3 linked regions of the Homo sapiens genome follow. The gene in region 3 interacts genetically with the main gene of each other region. Each region holds a gene or a part of one and is shown on either strand. Other genes may lie near its edges. The genes, in order: RBM22, CACTIN and GTF2E1.

Region 1 (3,650 bases), on a different chromosome or scaffold from region 3:
TGATTGAGAGAAGGAAAGAAAAATAATGAGTAAATAAAGGTTCTCAAACATCTCAGGGTTTTTTCCCATGGAGGAAAGGGGGTTCTAATAGGTTCTTTAAAGACCCTAAACCCTAGATAAGAGGTTGGCAAACCATAGCTCTCAAGGCCCATGAGCCAAGAAAGTTTAAAACAAGAATACGTGACAGAGACTGCATGTGGCCCACAATGCCTAAAATATTCACCATCCAGCCTCTTACAGCGAAAGTCTGCCAACCCCTGGGGGTTGTCTAGCTCACTTAGATAGGGTTTAATGGAGACAGGCTACCAAGGGCAGGTTATAAACTTACAGGAGTTTCTTCTCCACTTTATCTCTTTGGAAGAGGTAATTTCCATTACTATCTGCCCAGAAGTCTCATCTAGCCAAGCATAATACAAGCCAAAAATAACACAAATTTATCAAATGCCAGTCTCTTTAAAAACCAACAATTTAAACCACAAGAGTTTTATCATCGCAAAGCTCTCCCTCCTCTACATAATTCATCATACTTGGATGCGTGCCATCCTTTAAAACTTGGCTGTTAGGTCAAATAGAATCCTATGTCATTATTACCATATGCCAGGATGGATAAGCACTCTTTGAGCTTTGGTTCTGAGACAGGGTCTCACTCTGTTGCTTAGGCTGGAGTGCAGTGGTGCAATCACAGCTCACTGCAGCCTTGATCTCCCAAGCTCAAGCAATCCTCCTGCCTCAGCCTCCCAAACAGCTGGGACTACAGGCACATGCCACCACACCCGGCTAATTTTTTTGATTTCTTAGTAGAGATGTGGTCTCACTATGTTGCTCAGGCTGGTCTCAAACTCCTCGGTTCAAGAGATCCTCCCAAAGTGTTGAGATTACAGGCATGAGGCACTGTGCCCAGCCACATAAGCACATTATTACTGTGGCACCATAAAGGACAATTTTACAAAAATTCCAGTCAGCATGATACTAACAATAGAGAGACTACAGAAAAATGTATTTTGTACAGAATGATCATTCTTGCAGTTTTTGCAAATAAATTATTCCAGGGCAGTTAAAGGCAAAAATAACTCTCTAACTTATACCCACAAACCTTAAATCTGTCTCAGTAATGGTATCACCTAGACCACCAACATATAGTGTGGTGATAGTTTTATCCTCTGGTGGGTCCAGCCGAGGCATTGTTGAAGCCCGCTTTAGAAGCTTGTCAGCTACAGGATCATTGATTCCGTAATAACGGTCTTTAATATTCTGATCAGCAAGGGGGTCATCTGGATCTGTAGGCTTCTCATGTCTATGATTCAAGAAAAAAACAAGGCATAAAGGTGAAACGAAGGTGAAAAAATGATTATCTTCCAAGAGTAGCTACATATTAAAGTCCTAGATACATATTCTGAAGTGCCTTTTGAACTAGAAACTATGGTTTCTACCAAAATATAATTACCAAAATAGACCTAATACCAAGAGATTTACTGTATCACGGAAGGAATTACTAGCCTCCTAAAAGCCATTAGGCCATCTAGGATGCCAAACTTTCCTTATAAATAAATACTCTTGACATGATCCACCCCCTCCCGCCCCCCAGAAAGGGACACATGATTACCCCTCTCTAGGTCAATGATTCTTAACACATTTGGGGTGCTGTATTCCACTGAGAATCTGATTAAAGCTATGAACCTCGCCCCAGAGAAAGCACATACATTATTTTTTAGGGGGTGGGGTTAACCAATCCCAAATTAAGAACTCCTAATCCAGATGCTTGGCAGTCTTAACCAAAACATACACACCCTTTAGAAGTCTGACCTTACTTTGACTTCAACTATACATTGAGAGTCAACTCATTTAAACCATGGCAGTGAAGATTTACTTCTCAGGCAGAAATGTTTAGGGTCAGCATCTATATTGTATGGCATAGCAATTTAGTTTCCAAGGCTCAATTGTAAGTAAAAACTACAATTTATTCATGCTCTTCTAAATTTCATAGTTCTAAGACATGAGGTATACCACATTAGTTGTATGACCTTTAGATTTTAAAGCAGAAACAGTTTAAGTTAGGACCTCCCACTTCTTAGATGAGAAATCATCTGAAAGCAAATACTGAAAATGAGGCTCGCTCTTGCCTGTATGGACATTCCTCTCCTCTCTTACACTCTCCTTTCACCCAGAAGGAGCAAATGTGGGGTCGATTCCTTTTGTAGTAGGGTGTGGTCCGGGCCAGTTTGAGCAGCATGTCACTGGTAGATGTGGCTTTCCCCAGCATGCCAACTGGCCGTGTTCCATCAGAGTTAGAAATCTAAGTGGGGATGACAAATTCAAAAGATAAATTATACAGACTGTGTCAATTCATTAGGATTTTTATCCAAAAAGTGGCAGCATACCTCTCTCTCCATATTCTGTGTATAGTACTCTTTGTTGACATCTGACTTTGGCATGTCATCTTTAAAAGACAATCCTGCGTCACGAACCTGGATGGGCAGGCCTGGTACAAAAAAAGAGGAAAAAGACCTCAGATGTATTTTAAAACATATCCATACTAACCATGCACACAGAATACATCATCTTTCCCTTCTCCTCTTTCCTATTTAGTACCAGAGACTTTACTATGTTTTTATTCAAACTCTTTAGCACCATCAGGTTACTTCTGCTACACAGCATGCTAAGAAATTGTCCAAATTCCTGAACTGTCAGGAAATTTGATGAAATTAATGCTTTAGAAAAAATCTTTTAGGCTGGGTGTGGTGGCTCATGCCTGTAATCCTAGCACTTTGCAAGGCTGGAGCTGACAGATAGCTTGAGTCCAGGAGTTCGAGACCAGCCTGGTCAACGTGGTGAAACCCCATTTCTACAAAAAATACAAAAATTAGCTGGGTGTGGTGGTATGCACCTGTAGTCCTAGCTACCCAGGAGGCTGAGGTGGATCACCTGAGCTTGGAAAGGTTAAGGCTGCAGTGAGCCATGACCATGCCACTGCACTCCAGCCTGGGCAACAGAGTGACACCCTGTCTCAAAAACAAAAAACAAAAAAATTATAAAAGAAAATTTTTAGATGAACAAACTGTGCCCATGGTCATATTCAACCTGTAAATTAGCTCCTAGTTTTTATTACAACATGATTTATTTAAAGTAAATGTAAAAGTGGTTTCTTTCTAGGTTAGTCTTACAGATCCTCTGGATAGTCACAGTCATCTAAGGGTCACTGTACTCCAGGACCAGACGCCTCCTTAACAAACATATAAATAATATTACATAAAATGTGGCCAGGACTCTGACTAGAAGAGTAACTCTAATGAACTTAACATACATAAACTCATATATTTTTCCCTTTCCTTTAATAGTAAAAACTCTTGTTGAAAAATTATCTTTCTGAAAAACAGTCACCTATGGTTAAAAAAAAAATTACTCCCAAAAGCAGTTACTCTGAAACAGTAGCAATATATCAGTTCTAACAACACAATTGAAATAAAAGTCTAAAGCACAATTAGGCTGGCTATAGTGGCTCTGGGAGGCCAAGGTGGGAGGACTGCTTGAGGCCAGAAGCTCAAAACCAGCCTGGGCAAAATAGTGACACACACACACACGTGCACTGGGTGTGGTGGTATACCAGGAGGCAGAGGCAAGAGGATCCCTTGAGCCCAGGAGTTCGAAGTTGC
Region 2 (3,473 bases), on a different chromosome or scaffold from region 3:
TCTCTTGACCTCATGATCCTCCCACCTCAGCCTCCCAAAGTGCTGGGATTACAGAAGTGAGCCACTGTGCCCAGCCACTTCTGAAAATTTTTTGTAGAGATGGGGTCTCACTGTGTTGCCCAGGCTAGTCTTGAACTCCTGGCCTCAAGCAATCCTCCTGCCTCACCTCCAGAAGGGCTAGGATTAAAGGCATGAGTGACTGCATGCTTTTTCTTTTTAATTTTTACAAAATTAAAGTTTTTTTATTATTTCTGTAGGTTATTGGGGAACAGGTGGTGTTTGGTTACATGAATAAGTTTTTTTGTTTTTTGAGACGGTGTCTTGCTCTCTTGCCAGGCTGGAGTGCAGTGGTGTGTTCTCAGGTCACTGCAACCTCTGCCTCCTGGGTTCAAGCAATTCCCCTGCCTCAGCCTCCCAAGTAGCTGGGATTACAGGCACCTACCACCACACCTGGCTAATTTTTTGTATTTTAGTAGAGACAGGGTTTCACGATGTTGGCCAAGATGGTCTTGATCTCCTGACCTCGTGATCCACCCACCTCAGCCTCCAAAAGTGCTGGGATTACAGGCGTGAGCCATCGTGCCCGGCCGTTTACATGAATAAGTTCTTTAGTGGTGACTTGTGAGATTTTGGTGCACCTAGCTTTTTCTAGGAAGTTCTAACCCTACAGGAGGTTGTGCAGTAGAAAACGGGTGTCATCCCAGCTCAGCTTCATTAGCCTCCCACCCTGTGTAGGGCCTGGCCTTTCCCCCACGCAGCCCCAGGGCCCTTGGCCTGCACCCCCAGCCTCTAGCAGCTGCTGGGACCCCCTAAACCCCCGGGCCCCCTTGTGGGCATTCGGGAGGCATCCAGACATGCAGCAGCATGTCCAGACCCGGCTTTCTATAGACGCTGACCTGGCGGCACCTGGCCTGGCTTCCTGGGAGCCTCGCGGCTGGGCTCTTCTGCTTGGGTTTCAGTGTTCGTGGTAGCCCCGCCTGTCTGGGCACGGCCGCGCTGTGCTTGGCTGGGGCTGCCACGGATTCCAGTGCCACTTAGCGCCCAGCAAAGGGGCTGCAGCTCTGGGTGCCGATTCCAGGGTCCCAGGTGATTGGCTGGAGGGGACTCGGGTCCGTCTAGACTCTATCCAGTCCCCTGTGGTGTAGGTGTGGGCCTCTTGACCCTCTGTCCGCCAGCGGGGACTGGAGAAGGCAGGTCTCGAGCAGGGTGCCTGCACTGGTCACCCCCGCCCAGTGTGTCACCAGCAGCTATGCACCAAGCTCCCTGTGGGCCCAGCATGGCACAGGGAACAGCAGCAGCCAGCCCCATTGCCCGCCTCGGGAAGCTGCCATCGCTGGATGGTCAGGGAGGGCTTCCTGGCGGAAGGGATGTTCTCACTGAGCATGGAGGATGCGAGGAATTCAGGAAGCGAATGGGACAGAGAAGGATGGGTAGCTGGCAGGAAGCACAGTGCGTGCAAAGGCCCAGAGGTGGCAGGGGTTCGGCATGGGCAGCAAGGGGCAGGGTTGCGAGGTGAGGCCAGACCCAGCGGGGTGGGTGGAAGTGGCCTGAGAGCAGCACTGAGGCCGCCGGGATGCCACGTGGTGTGGGGCAGAGCACGCGGAGTCAGGCTAGGCTCCAGCCTCCCAGCACCCCACTCCCGCCCTCAGCAGCCTCCCCGTCTATCGAGGAGGGACTTGAGCCTCGGGCCCCTGGGCCAGTGGTAGATGCCAGACAGACTCCATGTAGGATGGGGGGCGGCGGTGGGGAGCTGTTTGTCCTGGGGCGGGCCCAGGACTTCCCCAGGGGCCAGCAGGGTGGCCTTCTTTGCTAGGCTTCACAGAGGGAAACTAAGGCCCAGAAAGGGCAGGCCACTTGCCCACAGTCACACAGCCCAGGCTGGCAGAGAAGATCTGAATTCCAGAGAGCCTGGCTACCGAGCACACCCCCCAACCCCCTCATGGACTGCCCAAGGCCAGGGCAGAGTTGGGCCAGGTTGGTGGGCCGGGCCCACAACTAGGGTTCCCAGACCCACATATCAGACTCACCTGGGGAGGGGCATTCTCAGGGCCAGTCCTGGCCTCCCCCACGCTGGGGGCCTGGGCCTCCAGGTCAAGGCCTCAGCAACTGCATCTTAACGTGGCTCCCAACCTCCGCCCACCCCCTCCCCTCCGCTGTGGCCAGGGTGGGGACAACCTGAGACCAGGGAGGTGGCGGGACTGGATGGGACCCCTGTGGGGGAAGAGGAGGGGAGGGGGACCCCCCCATGGCAGGGGAGGAGGCCCTGATGGGGTGGAGGAGCACGTAGGAAATGTGGAACCGCCCCCCCATGCCCCCACCCCGCTGCAGGTGAGCGCCGCGAGGGGGTCAACGCCTCCGTCAGCTCTGATGTGCAGTCGGTGTTCAAGGGGAAGACATACAACCAGCTGCAGGTCATCTTCCAGGGCATCGAGGGCAAAATCCGCGCTGGTGGCCCCAACCTGGACATGGGCTACTGGGAGAGCCTCCTGCAGCAGCTTCGTGCCCACATGGCACGGGCCCGGTGAGCACTAGGTGCGGGTACCAGGGTTGGTGCCGTCCGGGTGGGATGGGTTTCGCCCCCTCCTGAGTCCTGGGTGGGGTGGGTCTCGCCTCCTCCTGGGACCATGTGGGGTGGAGAGGGGCAGGAAAGTGCCGACTGGCCGGGGCCAGCCTGTGAGTGACGAAGGGGGGCCGGGGGGCGCGTAGTCCCGTGCCCTAGCGGGAAGGCCCCAGGATGCTCCAGTGCCCTCACCTGGAGTCAGCCCTGTTGGTCTCACAGGGCTCCCCAGGAGCTTCCGCCCTTTAACGAGTACCTGGCGCGCTCCAGCAGCCATGGCATCACAGGAAGCCCCCAGGCGGCCTGCCTGTCCCCACTGCCTTGCGCCCAGGCCTGCGCCCTCCCAGCGCTGCTGCCTCCCGGCCTCTGGCTGTGTACAGATTTCTGGAGTGTTTTTGGCACCGCTGTGTAAATACATGTCTCCTCTGCTAATTTGTAAATGTCTCTAAATTTATCATGCTTGTTGGCTGGTGTCCTGCTGGGCCCCTTCTCCTGGCCAGCCCCAGCCACAAGACACTGAGACTGCAGCGTGAGACAGAGACCCACCTCTCCCTGCCATGGGATGGTTCACCAGGGTACCTGCGTCCTCTCGTCCTCTCTCCCATAAGCCTTGACCCTGAACTGACCAAGCCTGGGCAAAGGTCCCAGCCAGAGCCGTGGCTGCTCGCCACCTTCTCAGGGTCCTTGCAGCAATAAGGGGCGTGAGAATCTCGGTGGGGGTGGGGCGCGGAGCCCCTTCGCCTCCATGCGGGTGACCCCGGCTCTGCGTCCCAGGCTGCGTGAGCGCCACCAGGACGTGCTGCGGCAGAAGCTGTACAAACTGAAGCAGGAGCAGGGCGTGGAGAGCGAGCCGCTGTTCCCCATCCTCAAGCAGGAGCCCCAGTCCCCCAGCCGCAGGTAGGCCCGGCCGGCACCC
Region 3 (3,650 bases):
CCTATTCAACATAGTGTTGGAAGTTCTGGCCAGGGCAATCAGGCAGGAGAAGGAAATAAAGGGTATTCAATTAGGAAAAGAGGAAGTCAAATTGTCTCTGTTTGCAGATGACATGATTGTATATCTAGAAAACCCCATTGTCTCAGCCCAAAATCTCCTTAAACTGATAAGCAACTTCAGCAAAAAGTCTCAGGACACAAAATCAATGTACAAAAATCACAAGCATTCTTATACACCAATAACAGACAAAAAGAGAGCCAAATCATGAGTGAACTCCCATTCACAATTGCTTCAAAGAGAATAAAATACCTAGGAATCCAACTTACAAGGGATGTGAAGGACCTCTTCAAGGACAACTACAAACCACTGCTCAATGAACTTAAAGAGGATACAAACAAATGGAAGAACATTCCATGCTCATGGGTAGGAAGAATCAATATCGTGAAAATGGCCATACTGCCCAAGGTAATTTATAGATTCAATGCCATCCCCATGAAGCTACCAATGACTTTCTTCACAGAATTGGAAAAAACTACTTTAAAGTTCATATGGAACCAAAAAAGAGCCCACACTGCCAAGTCAATCCTAAGCCAAAAGGACAAAGCTGGAGGCATCACGCTACCTGACTTCAAACTATACTACAAGGCTACAGTAACCAAAACAGCATGGTACTGGTACCAAAACAGAGATATAGACCAATGGAACACAACAGAGCCCTCAGAAATAACGCTGCATATCTACAACTATCTGATCTTTGACAAACCTGAGAAAAACAAGCAATGGGGAAAGGATTCCCTATTTAATAAATGGTGCTGGGAAAACTGGCTAGCCACATGGAGAAAGCTGAAACTGGATCCCTTCCTTACACCTTTTACAAAAATTAATTCAAGACGGGTTAAAGACTTAAATGTTAGACCTAAAACCATAAAAACCCTAGAAGAAAACCTAGGCATTACCATTCAGGACATAGGCATGGGCAAGGACTTCATGTCTAAAACACCAAAAGCAATGGCAACAAAAGCCAAAATTGACAAATGGGATCTAATTAAACTAAAGAGCTTCTGCACAGCAAAAGAAACTACCATCAGAGTGAACAGGCAACCTACAGAATGGGAGAAAATTTTTGCAACCTTTTCATCTGACAAAGGGCTAATAACCAGAATCTATAACGAACTCAAACAAATTTACAAGAAAAAAACAAACAACCCCATCAAAAAGTGGGCGAAGGACATGAACAGACACTTCTCAAAAGAAGACATTTATGCAGCCAAAAAACACATGAAAAAATGCTCACCATCACTGGCCATCAGAGAAATGCAAATCAAAACCACAATGAGATACCATCTCACACCAGTTAGAATGGCAATCATTAAAAAGTCAGGAAACAACAGGTGCTGGAGAGGATGTGGAGAAATAGGAACAGACTTTTACACTGTTGTTGGGACTATAAACTAGTTCAACCCTTGTGGAAGTCAGTGTGGCGATTCCTCAGGGATCTAGAACTAGAAATACCATTTGACCCAGCCATCCCATTACTGGGTATATACCCAAAGGACTATAAATCATGCTGTTATAGAGACACATGCACACGTATGTTTACTGCGGGACTACTCACAATAGCAAAGACTGGGAACCAACCCAAATGTCCAACAAGGATAGACTGGATTAAAAAATGTGGCACATATACACCATGGAATACTATGCAGCCATAAAAAAGGATGAGTTCATGTCCTTTGTAGGGACATGGATGAAATTGGAAACCATCATTCTCAGTAAACTATCGCAAGAACAAAAAACCAAACACCGCATATATCTCACTCATAGGTGGGAATTGAACAATGAGAACACATGGACACAGGAAGGCGAACATCACACACTGGGGCCTATTGTGGGGAGGAGGGAGCGGGGAGGGATAGCATTAGGAGATATACCTAATGTTAAATTACGAGTTAATGGGTGCAGCACACCAACATGGCACATGTATACATATGTAACTAACCTGCACATTGTGCACATGTACCCTAAAACTTAAAGTATAATAATAATAAAATAAAAATAATAAAAATAAAAAATAAAATAAAATAAAATAAAAACCTGGGCTTCGGGAGGTGGAGGTTGCTGTGAGCCAAGATTACACCATTGCACTCCAGCCTGGGCAACAAGAGCGAAACTCAGTCTCAAAAAAAAACAAAACAAAAAAACAAAACAACACAAAACTGGGCTTTGAAATTCAGAGTACACAGCCTGTGTTTTGGTAACTGTGTAATCCTGAGCAAATCCCTTAAACAATTTCAAGCCACCTTTTACTCGCTAAGAAGTAAGGATAGTATCAACTACCTCAGTGGAGTTGTTGTGATTAATAAGAATATAATTAAAGTGCTTAGGAAGGACAGCTTCCATATCAACTTAACATGTTCCAAACTAAAAATGGCTAGACTATCCACACAGATTAAATCAAGTTAAATTTCCCTAGGCCACAGGGAATTTGTTTTTCTTTTCATAGAGAGAGTGTCTTGCTCTGTTGTCCAGACTAGAGTTCGGTGGTGTGACTTGGCTCAGTGCAGTCTCAACCTCCTGGGCTCAAGCAATCTTCCCACCTCAAACTCCCCAGTAGCTGAGACTACGGGTGGACACCACCATGACTGACTAATTTTTGTGTTTTTTGTAGTGACAGGGTTTCACCATTTTGCCCAGGCTGGTCTCGAACTTCTGGGCTCAAGGGATCCACCTACCTTGGGGGCTTCCTAAAGTGCTGGGATTACAGATGTGAGCCACCACACCCAGCCCACAGGATAATTTTTTTTTTTTTTGGAGACAGGGTCTCGATCTGTCACCTAGGCTGGAGTGCAGTGGCGCAAGCTCGGCTCACTGCAACTTCTGCCTCACAGGTTCAAGCAATCCTCCTGCCTCAGCCTCCTGAGTTGCTGGGACTATAGGCATGCACCACCACGCCTGTCTAATTTTTGAATTTTTAGTAGAGACAGGGTTTCACCATCTTAGCCAGGCTCCACAGGATAATTTTTAAGAGAGACATCCCATTGAACTATTTCAATGGAGAATCATATTCTGTTATTAATACTAGTTTCAACTAACCCTTTTATTTGAAATCAGTGGTTATCAACCCAACAGATTTAATACTCTTTTTATAAGAAATATTTTTATATCCACAGTACCATACTATAAGGAAACTCTATACACCAATCTATAACCAATCTATGCATATATTTTGGGGGGAAAATATAAGGCCCTTCCTGTAATAAAGGAAAAGTAAAAGTCAGTCAAAAGAAAATACGTACTTTAGGTTATAAATACTCAGGTATGACTACATATTGTAAGATATAACAAAGTAGCACCTAGATCCAAATCTGTGAACTTAGAGCCTTCCTGCTACCCCAGGGCTTAAGGATGCCTGGGAAGTACCTGGGCTCGACACCAAAGTAGTACCACAGCATACTACTGGACACACTTTTCTCTCCTTTTCGGTTTGGTCTATACATTGTACTTGAACCCCGTTTTCATTTTTTGTTGTTTTACATCCTCAACAGTTGTCAGAACACAACATATGGCTTCAGAAACATTCAACAAAGAACAGCAGAAAAATGTCAACATAACCTGTTTCCAGGATTATTTCCTACTATTGTATTCTCCTT

Evidence for each region.
Region 1: changes in GTF2E1 (region 3) and RBM22 together harm fitness less than expected from each alone (positive genetic interaction), as found in Homo sapiens cells (one large-scale study listed by BioGRID).
Region 2: changes in GTF2E1 (region 3) and CACTIN together harm fitness less than expected from each alone (positive genetic interaction), as found in Homo sapiens cells (one large-scale study listed by BioGRID).

The regions. Positions count from the first base shown.
Region 1 is NC_000005.10:150,694,413-150,698,062, forward strand, and holds part of RBM22 (pre-mRNA-splicing factor RBM22), read right to left. Parts: intron 2,480-3,650; coding exon 2,379-2,479; intron 2,294-2,378; coding exon 2,121-2,293; intron 1,295-2,120; coding exon 1,094-1,294; intron 1-1,093. UniProt on the Homo sapiens protein: Required for pre-mRNA splicing as component of the activated spliceosome. Involved in the first step of pre-mRNA splicing.
Region 2 is NC_000019.10:3,613,445-3,616,917, reverse strand, and holds part of CACTIN (splicing factor Cactin), read left to right. Parts: exon of another isoform or gene 1-2,322; intron 2,323-2,328; coding exon 2,329-2,521; coding exon of another isoform or gene 2,522-2,525; exon of another isoform or gene 2,526-2,532; intron 2,533-2,987; exon of another isoform or gene 2,988-3,331; coding exon 3,332-3,454; exon of another isoform or gene 3,455-3,473. UniProt on the Homo sapiens protein: Plays a role in pre-mRNA splicing by facilitating excision of a subset of introns. Required for the splicing of CDCA5/Sororin, a regulator of sister chromatid cohesion. Involved in the regulation of innate immune response.
Region 3 is NC_000003.12:120,745,650-120,749,299, reverse strand, and holds part of GTF2E1 (general transcription factor IIE subunit 1), read right to left. Parts: intron 1-3,650.